Linked DNA regions of Homo sapiens. The protein of the gene in region 1 interacts with the protein of each later gene in a pairwise test. Each region holds a gene or a part of one and is shown in the gene's direction. Other genes may lie near its edges.

The links.
Region 2: the proteins of LGALS14 (region 1) and SH3GLB2 interact in binary tests that used the Homo sapiens proteins (3 or more experiments, as listed by UniProt).
Region 3: the proteins of LGALS14 (region 1) and FCHO1 interact in binary tests that used the Homo sapiens proteins (3 or more experiments, as listed by UniProt).
Region 4: the proteins of LGALS14 (region 1) and ZNF438 interact in binary tests that used the Homo sapiens proteins (3 or more experiments, as listed by UniProt).

The regions. Positions count from the first base shown.
Region 1 is NC_000019.10:39,700,078-39,707,480, forward strand, and holds the start of LGALS14 (placental protein 13-like), read left to right. Parts: upstream 1-4,403; 5' UTR 4,404-4,451; coding exon 4,452-4,466; intron 4,467-5,627; exon of another isoform or gene 5,628-5,830; coding exon of another isoform or gene 5,831-5,932; intron 5,933-6,519; coding exon 6,520-6,596; intron 6,597-7,100; coding exon 7,101-7,311; intron 7,312-7,403.
Region 2 is NC_000009.12:129,006,536-129,011,362, reverse strand, and holds the end of SH3GLB2 (endophilin-B2), read left to right. Parts: intron 1-597; coding exon of another isoform or gene 598-669; coding exon 670-693; intron 694-1,153; coding exon 1,154-1,243; intron 1,244-1,491; coding exon 1,492-1,592; intron 1,593-1,895; coding exon of another isoform or gene 1,896-1,910; intron 1,911-2,016; coding exon 2,017-2,257; intron 2,258-2,571; coding exon 2,572-2,679; coding exon of another isoform or gene 2,680-2,821; 3' UTR 2,822-4,327; downstream 4,328-4,827. Other genes in the region: nucleoporin NUP188, read right to left, coding at 4,685-4,827.
Region 3 is NC_000019.10:17,768,446-17,775,476, forward strand, and holds part of FCHO1 (F-BAR domain only protein 1), read left to right. Parts: intron 1-1,979; coding exon 1,980-2,132; intron 2,133-2,346; coding exon 2,347-2,451; intron 2,452-4,011; coding exon 4,012-4,110; intron 4,111-4,199; coding exon 4,200-4,296; intron 4,297-5,793; coding exon 5,794-5,838; exon of another isoform or gene 5,839-5,842; intron 5,843-5,948; coding exon 5,949-6,033; intron 6,034-6,610; coding exon 6,611-6,635; intron 6,636-7,010; coding exon 7,011-7,031. UniProt on the Homo sapiens protein: Functions in an early step of clathrin-mediated endocytosis. Has both a membrane binding/bending activity and the ability to recruit proteins essential to the formation of functional clathrin-coated pits.
Region 4 is NC_000010.11:31,021,864-31,028,894, reverse strand, and holds part of ZNF438 (zinc finger protein 438), read left to right. Parts: intron 1-4,491; exon of another isoform or gene 4,492-5,475; intron 5,476-7,031. UniProt on the Homo sapiens protein: Isoform 1 acts as a transcriptional repressor.

The DNA.
Region 1 (7,403 bases):
CTTTCGCAAAGTTTCAGCATACAAAATCAATGTGCAAAAATCACTAGAATTCCTACATGCCAAAGACAACGAACCACAGGGCCAAATCAAGAATGCAATTCCATTCACAATTTCCATAAAAAGAATAGAATATCTAGGAATACAACTAACTGGGAGGTGAAAGATTGTTACAATGAGAATTACAAAACACTGCTTAAAAAAGTAGAGAAGACCCAAACAAATGGAAAAACATTCCATGCTCACAGATAGCAAGAATAACTATCATTAAAACAACCACATTGCCCAAAGAAATGTACAGATTCAATGGTATTCCTATTGAACTATCAATAACATTCTTCACAGAATTAGAACAATCTATTTTAAAATGAATATTTTAAATATTAATTGAACCGAGTGGGTTGAATAAAAGATATTCCAAAGCAAAAAGAACAAAGCTAGAAGCATCACATTACCCAACTTCAAGCTGCACTATAGGGCCAGAGTAACCTAACAGCATAGTACTTGCATAAAAACAGACACATAGACCAATGGAACAGAAAAGAGAGGCAAGAAGTAAGGTCCCACACCTACAGCAATCTGATCTTTGACAAAGTTGACCAAACAAGCAATGGAAATAATTTTTGGATAACTAGCTAGCCACGTGCAGATGATTGAACCTGAACCACTTTCTTGCGTTATATAGAAAAATCAACTGAAGATGGGTTAAAGACTTAAATGTAAAACCCAAAACTATAAAAACCCTGGAAGTCTACCTAGGCAGTACCATACCGAATGTAGAAATAGGCAAAAGATTCCTGACAAAGATGCCAAAAGCAATCACAAGAAAAGCAAAAATTGACAAATGGATCTATTTAAACTAAAGAGCTTCTGCACAGCAACAGAACCTATCAACAGAGTCAACTGACAACCTACAGAATAGGAGAAAATATTTGCAAATTATGTATCTGAAAATTGTCTAATATCTAGCTTCTATAAGGAACTTTAACAACTTTACAAGAAAAGAACAAACAACCCCATAAAAAAGTGGGCAAAGGGCTGGGTGCAGTGGCTCACGCTTGTAATTCCAGCACTTTGGGTGGCTAAGGTAGGTGGATTGCTTGAGTCCAGAAGTTCAAGACCAGCTTTGGCAACACGGCAAAACCCTATCTCTATGAAAAATAGAAAAATTAGCTGAGTCTTGTCTCAGGCACCTGTAATCTCAGGGACTCAGGAAGGTGAGCTGGGAGGATCGCCTGAGCCCAGGCAGAGGTTGCAGTGAGACGAGATTTCACCACTGCACTTCAGCCTGGGTGTCAGACCAGGCTGTCTCAAAAAAAGTAGACAAAGAACAGGAACAGATACTTCTTAAAAGAAGACATACATGTGGCCAACGAGCATATGAAAAGAAGCTCAACAGCCCTGAACGTTAGAAAAATGCAAATCAAAACCACCATGGGATACCATCTCTCACCAGTCAGAATGGCTAGTATTCAAAAGTCAAAAAATAACAGAAACTGGCAAGTTTGTGAAGAAAAGGGAACACTTACACATTTTTGGTGGCAGTGTAAATTAGTTTAATCATTGTGGAAAGAAATGTGATGGTTCCTCGAATGGCTAAAATAGAACTACCATTCAACCCAGCTATCCCATCACTGAGTATATACCCAGAAGAATATAAATCATTCTACCATAAAAACGTGCACATGAATGTTTATTACAACAGTATGCACAATAGCAAAAACATGGACTCAACCTAATAGCTCATAAAGGACAGACTGGATAGAGAAAATGTGGTACATATACACCATAGAATACTATGCAGCCTCAAAAAAGAATGAGATTATGACTTTTGCAGGAACATGGATGGAGTTGGAGGTCATTAACCTTAGTGAACCAATGTGGAAATGAAAAACAAAATACTGCATGTTCTCACTTAGAAGTGTGAGCTAAATGATGAGGCCCATGGATACCAAGAGGGAAACAACACACACTGAGACCTACTTAAGGGTGGAGGGTAAAAGGTGAGACAGGAGCAGAAAAAATAACTATTGGGTACTAGGCTTAGTACCTGGATGTGAAATAATCTTTACCGCAAACCCCATGACACGAGTTTCCCTGCATATGTACCCCTGAACATAAAATAAACGTTTAAAAAACAAAGAAAAAAACCAATGTCACCTTTCTTCTGGAATCTGCAGGAGAAACAGTGTCTCTGAAACTTTGATTCACATGGACATCAAGAGAAAGGAGAGAGTATTGCTAGAGTCCAGGTGTGGGACAGACAGATGAGAGCAGCCCTCACCTGGTAGAGCCAAAGGGCTTAGCATGGGGCAGGTTCATGCAAGGACGTTCTCTACCTCCCCCCCGGATCATCCTGAGGATCAAGGGCAGTGCTGTCCCAGAATCTTTAAAGGCAAAAAGAACAATTTAAAGGCAGAATGTATGATCTGTAGGTGTCTCTTTCCAATAAGTGTGGGGAAGAGGAATACAGACTACGGGGGTACTGGTCCCTTAGGTGAGGTCTGCACAGCTGGTATGCAGTACCAGCTACTCAGGATACTGAGCTGGGAGGATCACCTGAGCCCAGGAGCCAGAGGTTGCAGTGAGCCAAGATGGAGCCACACCACTCCAGCCTGAATGTCAGAGTGAGACCTGTCTTAAAACAACAACAAAAGGCGAGAAAAGACAAGAACAGAGAACAGATACTTTTCTTTTCTTTTCTTTTCTTTTTTTTTTGAGATGAAGTCTCACTCTGTCCCCCAGGCTGGAATGCAGTGGCATGATCTTGGCTCACTGCAAGCTCTCCCTCCCGCATTCATGCCATTCTCCTGCCTCAGCCTCCTGAGTAGCTGGGACTATAGGCGCCCGCCACCGGCCCGGCTAATATTTTGTATTTTTAGTAGAGACAGGGGACGCTTCTCAAAAGTACACATACAGGTGGCCAACAAGTATATAATAAAAGCTCAATATCACTGAACATTAGAGAAATGCAAATCAAAACTACAATGAGATACCATCTCACACCAGTCAGAATGGCTCTTCTTAAAAAGTCAAAAAAGGACAGATGCTGGCAAGGGTGTGGAGAAAAAGGAGCACTTACAGATTATTGGCGGTGGTGTAAATTAGCTCACCCATTGTGGAAAGCAGTGTGGTGATTCCTCAAAGAGCTTATAACAGAACTACCATTAAACCCCGCAATCCCATTACTGGGAATGGTGTATACACTACTGTATACACAGAAGAATAGAAATTATTCTGCCTTAAAGACATATGCATATGAATGTTCATTGCAACACTGTGCACAATAGCAAAGACACAGAATGAACCCAAATGCCATCAAGGACAGATTGGATACAGATAATGTGATACATATACACAATGGAATACTATGAAGCCCTAAAAAAGAATGAGTTCATGTCTTTTGCAGGAACATGGATGGAGCTGGAGGCCATTATTTTTAGCAAACTAATGCAGGAACAGAAAACCAAATACTGCATGTTCTCACTTATAATTGTGAACTAAATGATGAGACTCATGGACACCAATAGGGGAACAACACACACAGAAGCCTACTTGAGGTTGGAGGGTGAAAGGTGAGATAGGAGCAGAGAAAATAACTATTGGGTACTACGCTTAGTACCCAGGTGAAGAAATCATATGTACCACAAACCTCATGACATGACTTTATCTGCATATGTACCCCTGAACCTATAATAAAAGTAAAAAAAAAGAAAAAAGAAAAAAAATCTCATCTTTCTCCCAGAATCTGCAGGAGAAACAATATCTCTGAAACTTTGTTTTACATGGACTCCAAGACAAAGCAGAGAATGCAGCTAGAGCCCAGGTATGTGACAGACAGATGAGAGTGACCCTCACCTGGCAGATCCAAGGGGCCTAGTGTGAGGCAGGTTCATGCAAGAACTATCTCTACTTCTCTTCCCAGATCCTCCTGAGGATCAAGGTCAAAAGGATCTGACCCTTAAAGGCCCTCCCAGAACCTTTAAAGGCAAAGAGAAGAATTACCTTCTAGGTCTAACGTCTTTTTCCAAAATTCCCAATTTTTTATTTTTAGTCATTGTACAAATTGAGGAAATGTACACCTTCTGGCTAGATTCTGCATACTGGAGAAAAAGCTTGAGAGGCACAAAGGCTGGGCTTTACAATCCCTACCCCTCACTCCATCATCCTTATCTATGCATTTCCCTGGTAACCCAATCCACAGCCTGGTACCTCCCCCACTGTCATTTCTGCTGCATTACAGACACAGACCTGCAAACATCTATGGTTGTGACAGAGTTTCTTTCTGACACCTGAGTCTTTCTCCTGCTGCACGGAAAGCTTGCTGGGAGGGGCTTGGAATCTGGCATGAAGCCAAAGGGCATCTCTGAGTTGCAGCATTTAAATGATCCCACTCAGAGATTCACACAGAAGACTGGACACAATTCCGAAGAGCTGCCCAGAAGGAGAGAACAATGTCATCACTACCCGTGAGTTGAAAAGTCACAGCCTTCAATAATCTCAAGTCACATAAACCAAGAAAGAAACAGGGGAGGTTTTCTGAGTTGAAAATATGAGCATTCCTACTGTGAATGCATTACCGAGAGTTGTGGGTGTGTAGAAGAGAAACCCTGAGGCTGTGGTATCTGAGATGATTGTGGGTGTAGGCTGTGGACCCTGGACCAGTGTAACCCTCTGTGAGGGTGTGGTGGTGTCTGATGAGAGTGAACTCTGCTGAGATTAAGTGACTTTAGGTGGGAGGTGGATGACCCACCAGGACCGGCAAGTGTGTGAGTGAGTGTAAGGGGGTGAGTGTGCTTTGTCTTCCTGTCTGTGATGTGAGTGTGTGTGGGCACAGCCAGACCAGTGCATGGTCATCTTTATGTGCACAGTGAGCAGGTGTGTGTAACTCAGTGAGTGGCATGGCTCTGTGTGACTATGGGTGTGTGTGCTGGGATGTGACTGGGTATTGAAGGGAAAACATGCACGTGGCCTTCTGTGCATGTGAAGGTTCCTCCCCACACAGCAGCACCTCTGATGAAGCACCTGTGTGTCTTTTCATGTGTGGCAATGTGGATCCCAAGTGGCTTAACTGGTGGGGATCTTGGGGATTGTGAGTTACCAAGGACTCGTTTCAGATCACTTATGAGAGCGAAATATATCATCAGTAGATATCTCTTCCCAGTAAGAGTGAGGAAAAGGAACGCAGATTATGGGAGAGATGGTTCCTCAGGTGGGGACTGCACAGAGTGATCACTGGCTTTTGCCTCCCAGGCTCAGCTTCCCTGTCGCTAGCCCAGCCTGTTCTTCCCATTGTGGAACAGGCGAGTGTGAAGATACTGATTTGCCAGGGAAGAATATTAGAGGCCGTGGTTAAAGAGACGGAATCAAACAAAATATCCACTGTAAGCTCTGTCTGAACTGAGACTAAACTTGTTCCTCCACTCATGAAAGAACAAGCTGTCTGAATTCAGACAGTGCTTACTGTGGACATTACTCAACAAAGCAGCTGGGTTCACTGGTTCATGACTATAATCCCACCAATTTGGGAGGCAAAGATGGGAGGGTAACTTGAGGCCAGAAATTTGAGACCGGTCTAGGCATCATAGTGATATGCTTTCTTTAAAAATCTTTAAATATCTGACTGGCAGAGTGGCAGACACCTTTCACCCCAGCTACACAAGAGGGGGCAGATGTGTGAGGATCACTGCAGTCCAGGAGTTCGATGTTTCAGTGAGCTGTGATTGCACCACTGCATATCAGCCTGGGTGACAGAGCAAGACCCTATCTCAAAAATACAGAAAAATCATCAACCACTTGCAGTCGTCGTAGAAATCAATCATTCCCTCCAGTTATGTCCCTGACCCACAGGCTTCATTTGTGCAAGTACTGGGGCTGTGCTGTCAGTAATGTGTGCCGCTTCTGGGAAGGACGTCCATTGCCCTTGATGATTGTGGTGCGTGTACATCCCACACACAGGGGTTTCCTGTTCTTTCGTCATTTCCCTTTCTCTTTCAACAAGTGTTGTTTCTCACTGGAGTGAATTTTTAAATTCTTTCACCCTCAAGTCTTGTTTTCATTTTCTGAGTTGAAAATAAGGCAGGTCAGTGTTTCAGGAGGACTCCCCTGTTCTGTTAGGTCACCCCTAATTGACCCTATACATGCCAGGGATTAGGGTAAAAGTTTTACCTATATTAACTCCTCTATTACTGAGAACACCCTACAAAGTAGGAATTCCTGATAGTCCTCCTTGTCCTGGGGAAACTGAGGCAGGGAGAGGTTAAGTAATAGATCTAAGATTGCACTGCTAGTATAAGGCAAAATGAGGACTGGAATCCAGGCATCCGGGCTCTTGAACAATTGCTCTTACCTATGGATCCACCATATCTTCAGGAATATGGGGCCCTGACTGTGGTAGGGTGAAAGGGGAGAGGCCTCAGAGTCTGACCTTTGATCTCTAACCTCCTGCACCATGGGAATCTGTTACATAGGGGAGGTTACACCTTACCCTTTAGCTCTCACTCACTCTCCATACCCTGGCAGGTACCATACACACTGCCTGTTTCCTTGCCTGTTGGTTCGTGCGTGATAATCACAGGGACACCGATCCTCACTTTTGTGTGAGTACTCCATGGTCCAATGGAGGGGGTGGAGGAGAGAAGGGAGAATATTTGCTAAGGGTTTAACCTTATGTGTGAGTGATGTGGAAAACTCTAGTTGGCATAATGAAGGCCTCATGCAAGTGCAGGCCCTGGAGACCTTCCAGCAACAGACATGAGACCTGTAGAAACTGCATGCAGGCCAGCCACGGAACCTAGGGGAGGAGAACACTCAGTGGGTTTGGGTTGTGGCTCTTTATTAAAGGGCATAGAATTTTCAGGAAATGAACAAGTCATAGGCCCATGTCACTGACTGGCGCTCAGTTTTTGTCTGGGGATGAGGAACACAGCATCTCCCTGCCTGGGGGCATGAGGAGCTAAAGCGTCCCCACAGGGACCAGGACTGCAGTATCATCGGGGAGACTTTTTGCCCTGGGTAAAGGGGGGAAGGGATTTGTGTGTGTGGCGAGTGTGTGTCTGCACAATGGGGGGACCTGCCCAACATGCTGTGTGCTTTGACCTCAGCAAGGACCCACAGCTGGAGGTGAATTTCTACACTGGGATGGATGAGGACTCAGATATTGCTTTCCAATTCCGACTGCACTTTGGTCATCCTGCAATCATGAACAGTTGTGTGTTTGGCATATGGAGATATGAGGAGAAATGCTACTATTTACCCTTTGAAGATGGCAAACCATTTGAGCTGTGCATCTATGTGCGTCACAAGGAATACAAGGTGAGTACTTCAGGATCTTCCAGCGCTGGAGCTCTGTGGGCTCTTAGAGCAGGAGGCAGCTTTCATTGACCTGGTGCCACCAGTCCCTTGGG
Region 2 (4,827 bases), on another chromosome or scaffold:
GCAGCATGGGGGCCACACGGGCCGGCCACGCACACTGGCCTGGGTCCGCATTCCCTATTTCAGGCTGTTGTCTCGGGTCAGATCTCCGGAAGCGGCAGGAGCGCTGGGTCTCCTGGTCGTGGCCGGGCAGCGTCTTTCTTCTTCAGGGTCTGGATGCCACTTCCCGCCTCCTCCCTGTGCCCAGTGGAAGGAGAAACATCCTAGAGGGTGGAGACTGCCCTGTTTTTCTTTTGCCATTGAGTCCCAGTGTGACTCAAGCACGAGGCCACCTTTCTCTGCCAGAGGACAGAAAGCTTCAGTGACTGGCCCAGGGTCACACAGTTCTGCCGCCCAGCCCAGCAGCCTGAGCCAGCAGTCAGGATGGGGTGGGGACACTCCGTCTCTCTTGAGACCCCACTCAGAGAATGGGGCTGACACTGTAGGAGAAATATAAGCAGGACTCCTGCTGGCTGCTCCCCTCCTGCATGAGGCATGTTAGAGGGACTGGGACCGCCAGCCCCCAGCTCCCATGCCGGGCCTCGGCCCAGTCTCAGCTCCTGTTTGGGAGGGGGGGCAGAGGGGCAGGGGGGCAGAAGTTGAGTCTGGGAGCTGGGGCAGGGCACAGGCTCTAGGGTCCAGCTGTCCTCCTCTCCCCTCCCCTGCTGGCCACTCCTGCTGCCGTCTCCACAGCTCTGGAATGATGAAGTGGACAAGGTAAGTTGGGGCCTGGGGGGCTGGGCTCGAGGAAGAAGGGGTGGCGGGGTGCAGGCACACTTGCTGCTGTGGGGTCTGATCTGTTTCTCACTCTGCCCCACACCCACTGGGGAGGGGTTACTGCTTTCCCTCCCTGGGCCTCAGTTTCCCCTCTGTGGGGAAATGTTTTCTCCACAGTACCCTGTAGCACACAGTAGGCCCTCAGGATGCACTTGCTGGGTGGATTTCTCCGATGGGTGATGGAGGAAGGGTCTGTCACTGCAGCTGCCTGTGGGGTCCTGAGTGGGGCTCTAGCTTCTCTGGGGTTGGGGCTCCAGGTGTGAAGTCAGGCATAGACCCAGAAGGCTCTCTGTGTTCCCAGGGGAAAGGGACAGGCGGCTCCCAGGTAGGCTCCAGGAGAAGACTGCGGGGAAGCTGGTGGGTGGTGTGTGGGTGCTCATGGCTGCCCTGCCCTGCCCAGGCCGAGCAGGAGCTCCGCGTGGCCCAGACAGAGTTTGACCGGCAAGCAGAAGTGACCCGTCTCTTGCTGGAGGGAATCAGTAGCACTCACGTGAGTCCCACTGCCCACCCTCACTAAACCTAACCCTCAGCAGGCACCAGGTGTGCCTGAACCACAAGGTCAGCAGGGCTGCCCCAGAATGGCCCTCACAGAGCAAGTCCCACCGGGGAGGGTGTGGGCGCAGGGGCAGGGCACCCTGGAATGCCGGAGCAAGGTCTGGTAGAGGACGGGGATGGGGACGGAATTTTTTGTTCTGAGGGCGGGAGGTTAGAAGTCAGCCTCTGGCCTCTTCCCCGCAGGTGAACCACCTGCGCTGCCTCCACGAGTTCGTCAAGTCTCAGACAACCTACTACGCACAGTGCTACCGCCACATGCTGGACTTGCAGAAGCAGCTGGGCAGGTGCGGGGCCAGCACTGCTGAACCCACTGGGGCCCCCTGGCTCCCATACCCTGTCCGTGGGCAGCATGAGCTCCTCTGGGCAAGTCCTGTGACACAAAGCTGGGTTGGAGGGCTCTGCTGGAACCCACTCTGGGTGCGGGCATCTCATGTGTATGAGGGTGGAGTGGCTGGCCTTACTGACGGCCAAGTCCCCTGGAGCCCCTGAGGGTTTCTAGGGAATGCCTGGGTGGGGAGGATGGCAGGGACCAGGGGGTGGGGCCATCTCACCCTTCCCTTGCTTTGCTTTTCCCTTTGTGCTGCCAGCTCCCAGGGTGCCATGTGAGTAGCCGGGGCTGGAGTGGGGCTCCTGGGGCTGGGGAGGGGAGTTTGCCTCTGGGGTCCCTTCTGGGACTCCCACCTGCTAAGATGTATCCCTCCTCTCCAGATTTCCCGGCACCTTCGTGGGCACCACAGAGCCCGCCTCCCCACCCCTGAGCAGCACCTCACCCACCACTGCTGCGGCCACTATGCCTGTGGTGCCCTCTGTGGCCAGCCTGGCCCCTCCGGGGGAGGCCTCGCTCTGCCTGGAAGAGGTGGCCCCCCCTGCCAGTGGGACCCGCAAAGCTCGGGTGCTCTATGACTACGAGGCAGCCGACAGCAGTGAGCTGGCCCTGCTGGCTGATGAGGTGGGCCCGGTGCCGCAAGGTGGGGCAGGAATGGGCTGGGTGAGGAGCAGCCTGGGCACTGGGATCAGGCACATGGGGCCTGGAGGGGCCCTGTTGGCAAAGTGGGGACCAGCAGGTTAAAGAGGGCATATCCAGCTCTGAGGAAAGGATCCTTGCTCTGCTGGGTCTCTGGAGCAAGTGAGATGAGCGCCAGCCACTGAAGGTGTAGCACATGCCACGGGCCATGGGGAGGTGGCAGCTCTGTCCCCACTTAGTCCTGGGGCCAGTTCCACCCTTGGCCAGGCCATGACCGTCCTCTACTGCCATCTCTGCAGCTCATCACTGTCTACAGCCTGCCTGGCATGGACCCTGACTGGCTCATTGGCGAGAGAGGCAACAAGAAGGGCAAGGTCCCTGTCACCTACTTGGAACTGCTCAGCTAGGCAGGTGCCCCCATCCCCCCCGCATTCTGGCCTAGGCAGGAGAGGATGGGCGCAGCCCTGCCACTTAACTTGTTTGTTGGTGACACAGTTGTTCAGAGTGGGGAGAATTCACCCCATTCTGTCCCTGCCCCTAGTCACCTAGCTGTGAGGGTGCCTGAGGCTGAATGGCTCCACCCCTCCCCCAGCCCTGCTTCTGACCTGTGGCTCTGGAGCCCCTGCCCCTGCCTGCATCCCCGAGCACCCCACCCTCCAGGCTCCACTAAGGAGGGAGGGGCTGTCTGCAGCAGCTGCACTCAGCACCTAGGCCAGGGTGGGGCCGCCGCAGATGGGCTCAGGAAGCCCCAGGTGCACTCAGCGAGAGCCCTGCCTTTCAGTTGCCAAAAGCTGCATCAGGGGAATGCGGCAAGGCACACAGGGCTCTGGCAGCCCCTGGGGACTGGGCGCTGCCCCTGGGAGGGGAGAGCCTGGCCAGGGCTGGTGTTGGGCCCGGAGCAGCATCTTCCGGTGCTATCCTCCCCTCCCACCCCTCACAGCTCAAGCCAAGTCCAGCGGCCGCAGTCTTCACCTCTCCACACTCACTTTTTATCTGGTGTTTTTACTTCTGCCTGCGTTTGCTCTCTAGCCAATAAACCGTCCTTGTGTGCGAGTCACCTGGGCTCCTGTCAGGGCCTGGCCCTGAGGGTGGTAAAGGGAAAGGTAGACTCACCCTCTGCCCCACTCTTCCACAGAGTGAGCAGGGGCCCTGTGGCTGCCCCGGCCCCCAGCTCTCTAGTTGGGAAGAAGTGCAGCCCTCCCTGTCTTCTGCGGGGCCTGTGCCTCTCAGAGGGCAGTGCTGTTCCTGGACATGAAGCCGCACAAGGAACGTTTTATTCCTAAGAAAAAGTTTCCTAAATTTGGATTGTGGAGCGGACTGTAGAATGCGTCTGACAGTTCAGTTCAAGCACAAGAAGTGGGTAGCGGTCAGTGCTGTCTGCAGGTCGGGCGTTTCACCCAGCATGTGCCCCCGTGCCATGGGTTCTCATGCCGTCCTCAGTGTCCACATTTCACAGATGAGATCAGCAAGACAGTCAGCTCCTCAAGGGACCACAGTTGGCAAGTGGCCAAGCAGGGACTGAAGCCCAGGCAGCCTGATTCTAGAAACCCTAAGTGATGTCTGTGTTTTAGATGGCCCCTAGCAGGACCTAGCATTCTGACTTCAGTCCTGAGAAGGCCAACAGCCAGTAGGCCCCACTGTTGGGGCTTCTGAAGAGGGGATCGGGGGATGACGGGGGCACGGGGCTATAAATAGGAAGGCACAGAGCTTCAAGAAAGGCTCACCCAGGGATGAGCTCAGCCCACTGGGCCAATGAAAGCAGGGTCAAGGACAGGACCAGCGCAGGCCAAGGAAGGGAATATCTGACAGCGCCCACCCAGCCAAACCCTCAGCCCAAGGACAGGAATGAGGAGATGCTGGTGAACTAGCCATCCATCAGTACCTGCCTTCCCCCGAGGCTGCAGCCCCACTCCCAGGCGCCTGGCCAGGGGAGTTTTCTAGGTTCTGAGAGCCACGTTGTCATCCCTGGGCTTTGAAGTTAAACATCACACAGCTGTCTATAAACAAGATTTTAATATCTGTATAAATAGACCACAGAATTACCAAAACTGCAAAGACAGAGTGTGGAAAACAGGTTTGAAACCCGTGCATAGAGCCCTCTGCTGGGCTGCCGCCTCTCCCCTGGCCGGCAGTGCTGTGGGGAATGCTGGAAAGGAAGGAAAGTTCCTCTAGGGGGCGTCTGCAGCGTGAGGACCTGAGCACAGAAGACTCGGCTCCCCATGCCTGCTGTTGACCTCTTCATCTAGTATAAAAATAACGTCAGTGGGTGGTGGCTGGAGTCGTGGCTACTCCGGGAGGGGGGTGACAGGAGGTGCCCTCCATTGTATAGGCCCTAGCAGCCAGCAGCACCCCTGCCAGCCAGGGTGCAGTGTAGGCTGGTGGAGAGGGGTAGGTGGGCAGAACAGCACTGCCCTATCTTTGCATATGCCGGACAAACGCCTGCACCAACTGGATCAGAGGCTCCTGACTCTCAGGGCTGGCTTTGGAGAGAGAGGTGGACTTGCCCTGCGGCGAGGGGAGGACACCAGTGGCAGGGGAGCTGGGGGCTCCCCGGC
Region 3 (7,031 bases), about 22 Mb from region 1:
CTTTGGGAAGTTGAGGCAGGCATATCACTTGAAGTCAGGAGTTCCAGACCAGCCTGGCCAACATGGTGAAACCCTGTCTATACTAAAAACACAAAAATTAGCCAGACGTGGTGGCACACACACCTGTAATCCCAGCTACTCAGGAGGCTGAGACAGGAGAATGACTTGAGCCTGGGAGGTGGAGGTTGCAGTCAGTTGAGATCGCGACACACCACTCCAGCCCGGGCAACAGAGTGAGACTCTGTCTCAAAAACAAAACAAGGCAAAAAAAAAAAAAAGGAGAGAGAGAAGGGGTCCTGCTGTGTTGCCCAGGCTGGTCAAACATCTAACATATCTGCCTCAGCCTTCCAAAATGTTGGCATTACAGGCATGGGTCACTGTGCCTGGCCAGGAGTGAATTTTTAAGTGGTAAAAGCAGGCCAGGCGTGGTGTGCATGCCTGTAGTCCCAGCTACTTGGGAGGCTGAGCTGAGGTGTGAGAATTGCTTGAGCCTAAGAGTTAGAGACCAGTTTGGGCAACACAGTGAGACCCCATCTCTTAAAAAAAAAAGCTGGGCACAGTGACTTATGTCTGTAATCCCAGCACTTTGGGAGGCTGAGGCGGGCAGATCACCTGAAGTCGGGAGTTCAAGACCAGCCTGGCCAAAATGGTGAAACCCTGTCTCTACTAAAAATACAAAATTAGCCGGGCATGGTGGTGCATGCTTGTAATCCCAGCTACTTGGGAGGCTGAGGCAGGAGAATCGCTTAAACCCGGGAGGCGGAGGTTGCAGGGAGCTGAGATTGTGCCACTGCACTCCAGCCTGGGTGAAAGAGCAAGACTCCGCCTCAAAAAAAAAAAAAAAAAAAAGGCCTGGCACGGTGGCTCAAGCCTGTAATCCCAGCACTTTGGGAGTCCGAGGCAGGCAGATCACGAGGTCAGGAGATCGAGACCATCCTGACTAACACGGTGAAACCCCGTCTCTACTAAAAATACAAAAGAAAAATTAGCCGGGCGTGGTGGCGGCGCCTGTAGTCTCAGCTACTCAGGAGGCTGAGGCAGGAGAATGGCGTGAACCCGGGAGGCGGAGCTTGCAGTGAGCCAAGATCGCGCCACTGCACTCCAGCCTGGGTGACACAGCGAGACTTCGTCTCAAACACACACACACACACACACACACACACACACACACACACACACACACACACAAAACGGTGAGTTAAGCAACACAGTCTGCCACTGTTTGTCATAAAACTTGGGTTAGAACAAGCATCTTTATCCATATGCGGATTATTTCTAGAGAAGTATCACAGTAATAATTGGGGACTTCTAGGCTGGAGGGCCCATATATGGGAGGCTTTTTCCTGGCTTACCTCTTACAACTTTCTGAAATATGAACCATGTGTAAATAGTACTTTTTTTTAAAGTTAAAAATGTTTTGAAATGAAAAACGTACAGGCCGGGCGTAGTGGCTCACACCTGTAATCCCAACACTTTGGGAGGCTGAGGCAGGTGGATTGCTTGAGTGTAGGAGTTTGAGACCAGCCTGGGCAACATAGCAAGACCCCATTGCTATTAAAACACACACACAGAGGCCGGGCGTGGTGGCTCACACCTGTAATGCCAGCACTTTGGGAGGCCAAGGTGGGCAGATCACCTGAGGTCAGGAGTTAGAGACCAGCCTGGCCAACATGGTGAAACCCCGTCTCCACTAAAAATACAAAAAATTATCTGGGTGTGATGGTGAGCACCTGTAATCTCAGCTACTTGGGAGGCTGAGGCAGGAGAATTGCTTGAAACCGGGAGGCAGAGATTGCAGTGAGTCGAGATCGTGCCACTGCACTCCAGCCTGGACAACAAGAGCGAAACTCTGTCTAAAAAAAACCAAACCAAAACACACACACACACATAGAAAAAGACTGTGGAGCTGACATCACGTGGAGTGTTTGGGAGGTCAGGAATTTCACAGTCTACCCATGAAATCCCCTCCTACCCCGCAGTGCAAGGAGGAAGTGGTGAGCACCTTGGATGCTGTGCAGGTACTCTCGGGCGTCAGCCAGCTCCTGCCCAAGTCCCGCGAGAACTACCTGAACCGTTGCATGGACCAGGAGCGGCTGCGGAGGGAGAGTACCAGCCAGAAGGAGATGGACAAGGTGGGCTCACAGTGGGGGGGTTCTGAGGAATTTGCCGCGGGGCGGAGGGGCTGCCTGATCAGAGAGTGGAAACACATCCCAGAGCGACGGTCCTGGAACCTGTGGGTGATCACACCCTGGGTACCCCGAGGAGTTCACCTGCCAGGTGATGGGGCCTGGGGGAGGCCCCCTGAGTATCGCCCTCCCATCCCCGTTTCCTCCCTGTGCTTTGTAGGCGGAGACTAAAACCAAGAAGGCGGCAGAGAGCCTGCGGCGCTCAGTGGAAAAATACAACTCAGCCCGAGCTGACTTTGAGCAGAAGATGCTGGACTCAGCCCTGGTAAGAACCAGGCATCTGTACCTTTAAGACCCACACATGCCTTTGCCCTGGAGGTTATGGACTGCAGAAATCCCAGGCAGGGTGTGGTGGCTCACACCTGTAATCCCAGCACTTTGGGAGGCCGAGGCGGGAGGATCACCTGAGGTCAGGAGTTTGAGACCAGCCTGGCCAACATGGCGAAAGCCTGTCTCTACTAAAAATACAAAATTAGCCGGGCGTAGTGGCAGGTGCCTGTAATCCCAGCTACTCAGGAGGCTGAGGCGGGAGAATCACTTGAACCAGAAGGCGGAGGTTGCAGTGAGCCAAGATCGAGCCATTGTACTCCAGGTTAGGTGATAGAGTGGAACCCTGTCTCGAAAAAATAAAATAAATTCAAGCAGATTGGAATCTGAGGATTAGGAATCAGAACTTTTTTCAAGTTACAAGTGATAGAAGCCTTCATTCAAACCGACAGGTGTATATAAAAAAAAAAAAGAAAAGAAAAGAAAAAGGCTGGGCGCGGTGGCTCATGCCTGTAATCCCAGCACTTTGGGAGGCCGAGGCAGGTGGATCACGAGGTCAGGAGATCGAGACTATCCTGGCTAACACGGTGAAACCCCCTCTCTACTAAAAATACAAAAAAATTAGCCGGGCGTGGTGGTGGGTGCCTGTAGTCCCAGCTGCTCAGGAGGCTGAGGCCGGAGAATGGCGAGAACCCAGGAGGCGGAGCTTGCAGTGAGCCGAGATTGCGCCACTGCACTCCAGCCTGGGCGACAGAGCGAGACTCTGTCTCAAAAAAATAAAAAATAAAATAAAAAATAAAATTTAAAAAAACTGACAAGCTCAGGGAACTGTAAAGTTTTATTTTTGAGTTGTGGAGGTTTCAGTCATAGCTGAATCCATGTGCTCAAATAGTGCTGGCAGGAAATTGTGAATTTCTGCTTCTTTTATTTTTTTGAGATGGGATCTCTCTGTCACTCAGGCTGGAGTGCAGTGGCGTGATCTCAGCTCACTGCAACCTCCGCCTCCTGGGCTCAAGTGATTCTCCTGCCTCAGCCTCCCTAGTAGTTGGGATTACAGGCACGTGCCACCACACCCAGCTAATTTTTGTATTTTTAGTAGAAACGGTTTCACCATGTTGCCCAGACTGGTCTTGAATTCCTGACCTCAGATGATCCACCTGCCTTGGCCTCCCAAAGTGCTGGGATTACAGGCATGATACACCACAGCTGACCACTATTTCTGCTTCTTAAGTCTGTTTTTCTCTCTGGGGACATCACTCCCACACAGACATCCCCTTGTGTGTGTGTGTGTGTGCATGTGTGTGCAAGCATGCACATGTGTGCATCAAACTGGGCACCAGCAACCCCCACTTACATCCCATCAGCACATTGGCTCAGGAATGGAAGTGCCTTTTCCTGTAGAGTCAATGAAAGTCCTAGGGCAGACTCTCATTGGCCCTTCCCCAAATCAATCACTGAGCCAAGGGCTTAGGGTATTCTGATTGGTCAGGCTGAGTCATATGGCCACTTCTTCTTGGCCCTGACCTCCTTTCCACCTGCCTCTGCCCTCCTGCTTCAGCGCTTCCAAGCCATGGAGGAGACACACCTGAGGCACATGAAGGCACTGCTGGGCTCATATGCTCACTCGGTGGAGGACACGCACGTGCAGATTGGGCAGGTGAGTTGGGCAGGTGTGAGGAATGAGGCTGGGGTCACTGCTGGGCAAAGGGGCCTTGACCAGTTACACACCCCGCCCACCCGGCACAGGTGCATGAGGAATTTAAGCAGAACATCGAGAACGTCAGCGTGGAGATGCTACTCAGGAAGTTTGCAGAGAGTAAGGGCACAGGCCGGGAGAAGCCTGGTGAGTCAGGGCAGCCATTGGGGGTCGGGCTTCGGGGCCACAGCTGCAGACAGGCATGTGCCACCATGCCCAGCTAATTTTTTTTTTATTTTTTTATTTTTAATAGAGACGAGGTTTCACCATGTTGGCCAGGCTGGTCTCGAACTCTTGACCTCAGGTGATCTGCCTGCCTCGGCCTCCCAAAGTGCTGGGATTACAGGCGTGAGCCACTGCACATGGCCAGGCCTTGGTTTCTTCATGGGAAAAATGGGCTGCTGACAAGTCCAGCTCTCCAGCCTGATCTTATGTGTAAATGTCTTTGAACCAGATCCCAGAGGAGCCTTGAATGCCAGGCTTGGCTGATCAGACTTCACCCCCAGGGCCTAAGGGAGCCATTGAGGGTTGTTGAGCAAAAGAACAATTTGGGAATGCGCAGATGCAGGACTGGGAAGGAGTTAAGAGCAAAAGTTTTAGAGTGAGACGTGGGTTTGAGTCTTTTCTTCATCGCTTGCTGTGTGACCTAGGACCTGTGCTTTGACTTCTCTGAGCCTCAGTTTCCTCATCTGTAAAGTGAGGATGTAATAATGTTGCAACATTCAGTGATTTCATGCAGGTAAAGGGCAAAGGGTGTGCCAGGCACACAGTAGGCACTCACTAAATGCTGGTATACAGTTACGTCCTCAAGTCTTGTTAACTAGCAAAACCTGTTCTTTCTCCCTCCTGTCGCTCTGGCTCAGGCCTGGCTCAGGTCTCCCCTCCCTGCATGGGGCCCCACTCTTGCCCTTCACAGGCCCCAGATCTGTTTTGTCCTCCTCCTGCTCACACACCTTCCATGGCTCCCCATTGTTCTTGGGAGAGAGTTCCCACTCCTTATCCTGTCACTCAAAGCCCAGCCCACTGCACAGACGCATGGTCCATTCCCCGACCCAACCCAAGTTCCAGCCACAAATGCTGGAAGTATGTAGAAGTAGCTCATGTCACCCCCTGCGGTGGCACTGCCCTGCTGGAACCAGACCAGCCCCTTGGTCCATCCCACTTCTGATGATGTGGGGCTGGTTCTTGTCCGGGAACCTGATGGACCTTGAGTTCAGATCCAGGTGCCATTTTGTGGCCAAAAGTGTACTACCCTTTCCAAGCGCAGTCTCCCCACCCTCAATTTAGTTTCTTTCTCTCTCTCTCTCTCTTTTTTTTTTTTTTTTAATTTTTTTGAGGCAGAGTCTTGCTCTGTCACCCAGGCTGGAGTGCAGTGGTGCAGTCTCGGCTCACTGCAACCTCCGCCTCCTGGGTTCAAGCGATTCTCCTGCCTCAGCCTCCCCAGTAGCTGGGATTACAGGCGCCTGCCACCATGTCCGGCTTTTTTGTAATTTTAGCAGAGACAGGGTTTCACCATGGTGGCCAGGCTGGTCTTGAACTCCTGACCTCAGGTGATCCGCCCGCCTTAGCCTCCCAAAGTGCTGGGATTACAGGCATGGGCCACCGTGCCCAGCCCCTCAATTGAGTTTCCGTCTCCTGTCTCAGGACCTCTGGACTTCGAGGCATACAGTGCGGCTGCCCTGCAGGAAGGCAAGTACGTCTGGGCCTGGATGCCCAGGCTGGACCATGGGGGTGAGGGAGGCTGATCTGAATGTGAAAGGAGGCTCACAGTGCTCAGGTGCCCCCCAATCTATCCTCAGCGATGAAACGTTTGCGGGGAGCCAAGGCCTTTCGCCTTCCAGGACTAAGCCGGCGGGAGCGGGAGCCAGAGCCACCTGCAGCTGTGTGAGGAAGCACCCCTGCCCGGTCTGGCCCAGGCTAGACCGAGATCCCCTCCCCTGCCCAGGCTATCCCAGAAGTCCCCTCCTAGGATAGCCCAGGAGTATCCATATTCCAGGCTGGACCAGGATTCCCTCTACCTGAGCTAGACCAGGAGTACCTCTGCCCCCGGCTAGCTCAATATTACCGCTGCCCAAGCTAGTCCAGAATTCTTCCTTTTGCTAGGTTAGGCCAGGAATTGCCTGTCCCAGAGTAACGTAGCATCTTCCCTGCCCAAGCTGGCCCAGGATTGTTCTGTTTGCCAAGGCTAGCCCCGACTTTCCCTATCTTCACAAGGCAGCCCTTCAAATGAGTTCCAGGATTCCTTCCCTCCCAGGCTGTTTGAGAACACTCTCTACTCAGCTAACTTCAGATTCAACCCCCTCCCCAAGCAAGCCCCATGGTCCCACCGCCTCTAGGGCTAGCTCAGGGCAGTATCACAGTCTGGGAGCTGCCCCAGCTTCCATGTCCAGTGTTGGGGGCTGACAGGGGGCACCAGATGGGCTGCGGAAGCTGACACCAACATCTCTTCCTCCATCCCCAGAGATTTCCTGGAGCCCGATTCAGGGGTGAGTGATGTGGGAGGGGTCAGGCTGGGCTACAAGTGGAAGGAGTTTGATCCCACTCTTGGCTCCTAGAGTCCCGATCCCTACTGGAAACTAAAGAGCCGAGATTGAGGGGCGGGCTGGAGCCTGGGGGCTGGGTTCATATCCCACCTCAGCTGCAAAGTCCCATGGACTACGTGGGTGTGAATAATGTCCCTGCCGAAGCTCAGTTTGTCCCAGGAACCTGCCCACACACCCAGGGAAGACAGTCGTTGCCATCAGGGTTGGTTTTGAGGTCTGAGTCAAGGCCTGGGGGCAGGGCGGGGGGCGGTTGGCAGGGTGAGATGGAAGGTTCGATAGTGGGGCGCCTGACTCACTGCTGCCCCCTGACTCCCCTAGACATGTCCAGAGGTGGATGAA
Region 4 (7,031 bases), on another chromosome or scaffold:
CCTGACTGGGTTCATGCAGCCAGTATCTGGTATTCCCCACTGTAGGTTCCGTAGGGGCAAGGTCTGTCTCTTTGACTTCTCTATCTCTAGTCCCTAATCCAGTGCCTGCTGTGTAGTAGATGTTAGGGATGACTTTATATAATGGGCATTTGGTTAGGTTTTGGAAGTTCAGAGATGAATAAAACAGTTCTTTACCTTAGAGGAGCAGGGTATGAGGAAAAACCTGTGGGAATAAAATTAGAGTAGACTAAATGCATAAATACATGCCGATTAGTTCATTTGGGTTTTCTGCACCCTCCCCTCCCCAGCTTCCATGACTTGTGAGATGGGGCATGAAAAGGGCAAAGGGGCAAAAGAATGCCTAAGCTGTTGCAGGATGAAGTTGAGGCTCCCCAAGAGTCCTTTTCAACAAAAGAATTACTCAAAATCATGCATATTTTACTATATTTGCATTAGCTTTATTTGGCAATGATAGAATTTTTACCAAATGAAATAAATTCTGATATTTGACTGTCCTTTTGAAGTGATGAGTTTTTCCAGTTCTATTACCTCAGTGTTGACAGGGCTCACCAGAGAAATAAGGGAGTTGGCTTGAAATGTTGCAGCTTGCATAATAGAGGGTGATGGAGGGGTTGGGTGAAGTATTCAGGCAGGTTTCCACCGGTTTAAGTGTGTCATGCCAAAGTTCCACCTATTGGAATAAGTTTGAGTTTCTTTGCTGACCATCTCTAACATTGACATGTATTTTTTTTTTGTCATAGAAAGGGGATCTGGTGATATATATTGTAGGTGGAATTGCAGATTACATCTCGTATAGCTGGATCATTGTAGAACATGGAGACTAGAAAAATACAAACAAAAAAAGATGTGTCTTGTTCCCGTAGATCTTTCATGGCATACCATAACCTCAACAGTTGTCACAATTTTGTTACTTCCTAACATGAGTATTTCAAATTTAAACCATGTAAGAATTATATAAAATTGCACTGCCGTAGATTTTATGGTTAATTTCAGAATTTTTAAAAATATATAAAATTATATTTTGTTTTAAGCTTTCATTGGGAAAGTATCTAAATAACCAGATCTATGATTACTCTAAACAGAAGCCCTCTACTAACGTAAATGTAGAGGGGTGCCATCTCATTTTGCAGTTCACAACGTTTTAAATCTGCTCTTGTAGCTTCCCTACATTTAATGGAGTTGAAATGATTAGTCTTTATTTACACCACATTTGCAGTTAGTTTCCCAGGAACATCAGATACCCATATATGGTATAAAGTAAAATTGCATAGTCAATAGCCTATTGATGCTCAGGTGTTATTGACTTTTAAGTTCAGGCACAGTGAGGGCAGGTTGATGGTTATTTAATTGTGTCAGGTAGCTCCCAGCAGAGGGGGAGTGATGGTAAGTTCTATCTGAAAACAACAGGACCCTCTGTTTCTAACACTGACCATGCGAAATATAACATCCTAGATAGTAAATAAAATTCAGATTCCTTTTAAAATTTACATTTGCACAAGCAAATTTTAAACTATTTTATGAGTACTTTTATATATATGAAGATTTATTGTTGAAAACAGTGTGTCTAGCCCAGTGATAGTACATACTGAGCATTTAAATATAATTCTTTTTTTAATTAAATTTATTTTTTAAATTATACTTTAAGTTCTAGGGTACATGAGCACAACATGCAGGTTTGTTACATATGTATACATGTCCCATGTTGGTGTGCTGCACCCATTAACTCGTCATTTACATTAGGTATGTCTCCTAATGCTATCCCTTCCCCCTCCCCCGACCCCACGACAGGCACTGGTATGTGATGGTCCCCACCCTGTGTCCAAGTGTTCTCATTGTTCAATTCCCACCTGTGAGTGAGAACATGTGGTGTGTGGTTTTCTGTCCTTGTGAAAGTTTGCTCAGAATGATGGTTTCCAGCTTCATCCATGTCTCTACAAAGGACATGAACTCATCCTTTTTTTATGGCTGCATAGTATTCCATGGTGTATATGTGCCACATTTTCTTAATCCAGTCTATCATTGATGGACATTTGGGTTGGTTCCAAGTCTTTGCTATTGTGAATAGTGCCACAATAAACATACGTGTGCATGTCTCTTTATGGCAGCATGATTTATAGTCCTTTGGGTATATACCCAGTCATGGGATGGCTGGGCCAAATGGTATTTCTAGTTCTAGATCCTTGAGGAATCGCCACACTGTCTTCCACAGTGTTTGAACTAGTTTACAGTCCCACCAACAATGTAAAAGTGTTCCTATTTCTCCACATCCTCTCCAGCACCTGTTGTTTCCTGACTTTTTAATGATCGCCAATCTAACTGGTGTGAAATGGTATCTCATTGTGGTTTTGATTTGCATTTCTCTGATGGCCAGTGATGATGAGCATTTTTTCATGTGTCTGTTGGCTGCATAAATGTCTTCTTTTGAGAAGTGTCTGTTCATATCCTTTGCACACTTGTTGATGGGGTTGTTTGATTTTTTCTTGTAAATTTGTTTAAGTTCTTTGTAGATTGTGGATATTAGCCCTTTGTCAGATGGGTAGATTGCAAAAATTTTCTCCCATTCTGTAGGTTGCCTGTTCACTCTTTATGGTAGTTTCTTTTGCTGTGCAGAAGCTCTTTAGTTTAATTAGATCCCATTTGTCAGTTTTGGCTTTTGTTGCCATTGCTTTTGGTGTTTTAGACATGAAGTCCTTGCCCATGCCTATGTCCTGAATGGTATTGCCTAGGTTTTCTTCCAGGGTTTTTATGGTTTTAGGTCTAACATGTAAGTCTTTAATCCATCTTGAATTAATTTTGGTATAAAGTGTAAGGAAGGAATCCAGTTTCAGCTTTCTCAATATGGCTAGCCAGTTTTCCCAGCACCGTTTATTAAATAGGGAATCCTTTCCCCATTTCTTGTTTTTGTCAAAATTCTACTTCTTGCAATCACTTTTATTTTTGCATTATTATCTTCAACTCATATATATTTGTAGTAGTAGCTGGATGCTTGTTTGTGTACTTTACACTCTAAATGTTTGAATATATTTAAATAATTTATATAAGTAGCACTTATTTTTGCTTCATTTCACATTTGGTTGCTTAAAAATTAAAATCTTTAGGTTTGATTTTAACACATTACACTAATGGCTAATAATTAGTAAGTCTAGGTGGAGACTAAGCTTTAGTGACAGGTTAACCAAGTTTTAACCCCAAAAGAACACCCAGAAGAAAATTCTTAGGGAATAGTAAGCAAAACCAGTATGTCGATGAAAGGAATAATTTAACCATAACTACGTAGCTATTATTCTTCAAGTTGTTACTATTCTACAGGGAGTATTTTCTTATTTGGTTCTTCAATTGCAAAGCTATTAATTTCAGTCTGCATTGCAAGCCACCAAGCAGTGTGAAATAAATACTGGAAGATGATACTGTGAAGAATCTGAACTCAGAATGATTTTTTACTTTCCAACACACTCTGGGGACATTTGGCAATGTCTAGAAAACATTTTTGGTTGTCACATTTGTGTGTGGGGACATTACTCCTAGCATCTAGTGGATTGAGGCCATTATAGCATGTCACTGAATGTCCCACAATGTACAAGACAACTTCTCAACAACAGAAAATTATCCAGTTCAAAATGTCAGTACTCCTGATGTTGAGAAATTCTGTAATATCTTTTCTTCCTTCACTCCCTCCTTCCTTCTGTTCCTCCTTTTTTATTTTTTTATTTTTTTGCTTTAGAAATGGAGGTGGTAGTTTTAAGTGGCAAATGCCTGACTTGGACAAAGGATTGTGTTGTACTGCTTTTAGTTTGTTGGATAGCTGAGCTAATTTGGTTCATTTACTGAATGGGAAATAATTCTTGGAGCTAATAATAGTAGCCTTGAATTTTTTTGGTTGCTAGTGTGTCTAGTGGTTTTGTATTTGTTTTTGGCTATGAATATTTTTCTTACTAAAATTAATTTAATCTGGACTTTATATAATCCTGGATTGTAACAGGTTTCCTAGTGTGAATTCCCTTTATTGTTGTATATGTTAAATTAGCTATTTCACAGTTTCATGGTTTATATCTGTCAAAATCCTTTTCACATTAATTTTCATTTTTGATTGTTACAAACAGCCCATAAAATGTGTAGGGCATGCATTATCCTCACTATTAGACCAATGAAGAAACAGACTTAGGTTAAATGACTTTCCATATGTGTTAATAAGTTAGTGATGAAAGCAAATCTAGAACTTTATACCTAGGAATCTTTTTTTTTTTTTGAGACAGAGTCTCGCTCTGTCGCTCAGGCTGGAGCGCAGTGGCGCGATCTTGGCTCACTGCAAGCTCCGCCTCCCGGGTTCACGCCATTCTCTTGCCTCAGCCTCCCTAGTAGCTAGGACTGCAGGCACCCGCCACCAAGCCCGGCTAATTTTTTGTATTTTTTTAGTAGAGGCGGGTTTTCACCGTGTTAGCCAGGATGGTCTCGATCTCCTGACCTCGTGATCCGCCCGCCTTCACCTCCCGAAGTGCTAGGATTACAGGCGTAAGCCACTGCGCTCGGCCGTACCTAGGAATCTTTTAAAGTTACCAGTTATTGTTATCCCATTTAATCTTCTTGACAATACTGTGAAATAGAGTTATTACTCTCATTTTATAGAAAAAGAAGTTGGTTTAGAGATATTAAATAACCTATTCAGTGCCACCCAACTCATAATGTAGTTTGGCTGTTTCCACTGAGCTATTCTGTGTCTTCAGATATTCTCCAATAAATAAATCTGACAATTTCTGGATAAATTCACAGAATCTTTGCCTAACTTAATTAGGTTTCTTGAAACTCATGTTGCCACTTGAATCATTGGTAATTCAGTGTTTGTAAGCCTATTCTAATTTGACTTAAGTAGAAACTTACCTGAGTTTTGGTAAACCATACTTGCTGGGTAGGGGAGAACCGTGCTTGCAGAAGACAGTCCTTTAAACAGGCAGAGACGTTTTTATGTAGGGTTTTGAGGAAGCACAGAGTTTGAGATTGGCTGATTTTGAAAAGTGCAAAAATTTAAGGATTAGCCAGCTTTAAACTTAGAGTTTAGAGACTGACCGGCTTTGAGGAGCAAAGGTACTGAAGCGGGGCAGTTGCTGATTGGCTTACTTTGTTGGCAAAGTGCTTAAGTGGAAAGGTTGAGTAGACTTTAAGGATGGATTGACTGGGGTAGATTTAAAACTGGTTTTGTGGTTACTTGTTTCCAGCTTAGGACTAGAGCCAAAGAACAATCTTTTCCTTTCTTGAAGTTGAAGAATACGTACTTTTTATGTCAAACATGTTGATGTTAGCTATGGCGCTAATATAACATACTTTTGATTTTGCTTTTCTTCTGAAACTTAAAAGAAAAATGGATGTACAAATATCACTTGTTTTCTGTCTATCAATTTCAGGACAATATATTTGGAACCCAGGCTGCCTCAAGGATTATTTTTATATGTAGTTCAAGAGGTAATATATTATTTGTGGAAATATATTAATGCTTTAAAAATTATGGTGAAGGCTGTGCTGTCTATGGTGAAGGTTATGTCTATTTTTTTTCTCTTTTGGGAGTGTGTTATATTATGTGCCTGCCACAATTAGTCTTGATAGATGCCGAATTATAGATCTAGAAGTCTGTTGTTTTTGCTGTTATTAGAGATACATCTAGAAGTGATTACTTTTTGAATGTTACTTGGAAAGTATTCTGATCAACATTATGAAAGATTAGTGATTATATTACATATATTTTATAGAACAAGGCAAGCAAAATATTTTAGTATTTGCAAATCATGTTACTATAATTATTAGATCATAGTACCATTTATATAAAGTATTAGGTTGGTGCAAAAGTAATTGCGGTTTTGGACCGTGAATTTTAAATCATTATAAGTCGGCTCAGACACGTCTTTATTAATCAGAGCAGGAAGCATTATAATCAACACATTTTTGCCAATGAGAAATAAGTTTGTTCATTCCTGTAGCTTAAAAATTCATGCTTTGGGATTTGGAAAGCATTTTCTGCTTTCCAAAAACCTGCTGGTTTTGGAAGCATTTTCCTTTCAAATAGTTGTCGAGATGCTTGAAGAAGTGGTGGTTGACAAGAGGTCAGGTGAATATGGCGGATGAGGCAAACTTCATAGCTCAATGCATTCAGCTTTCGAAGCGTTTGTTGTGTGTCGTGCGGTTGGGCATTGTCATGAAGAAGAATTGGGCCCTTTCTGTTGACCAACGCTGGCTGCAGGTGTTGCAGTTTTCAGTGCATCTCATTGATTTGCTGAGTGTACTTCTCAGATGTAATGGTTTCACCAGGATTCAGAAAGCTGTAGTGGGCCAGGTGTGGTGGCTCACGCCTGTAATCCCAGCACTTTGGGAGGCCGAGGTGGGTGGATCACCTGAGGTCAGGAGTTCGAGACCAGCCTGGCCAACATTGCGAAACCCTGTCTCTACTAAAAATACAAAATTGGCCAGGCATGGTGGTGTGCACCTGTAGTTCCAGCTACTTGAGAGGCTGAGGCAGGAGAATTGCTTGAACCTCGGAGGCAGAGGTTGCAGTGAGTTGAGATTGTACCACTGCATTCCAGCCTGGGTGACAGAGTGAGACTCCGTCTCAAAAAAAAGAAAAAAAAAAGGAAGAAAGCTGTAGTGGATCAGAGCGGCAGCAGGCCACCAAACAGTGACTATGACCTTTTTTTGGTGCAAGTTTGGTTTTGGGAAGTGCTTTGGAGCTTCTGGGTCCAGCCACTGAGCTGGTCGTTGCCAGTTGTCGTATAAAATCCACTTTTTGTCACACGTCACAATCCGATTGAGAAATGGTTCATTATTGTTGTGTAGTATAAGATGGCACTTCAAAATGACAATTTTAAAAAATTTTCCTTCAGGTCCTGAGGCACCCATTTATTGAGCTTTTTCAACTTTCCAATTTGCTTCAAATGCCAAACGACCGTAGAATGGTCAATGTTGAGTTCTTTGGCAGCTTCTCACTTAGCTGTAAGACGATCAACTTCAATGATTGCTCTCAATTGGTC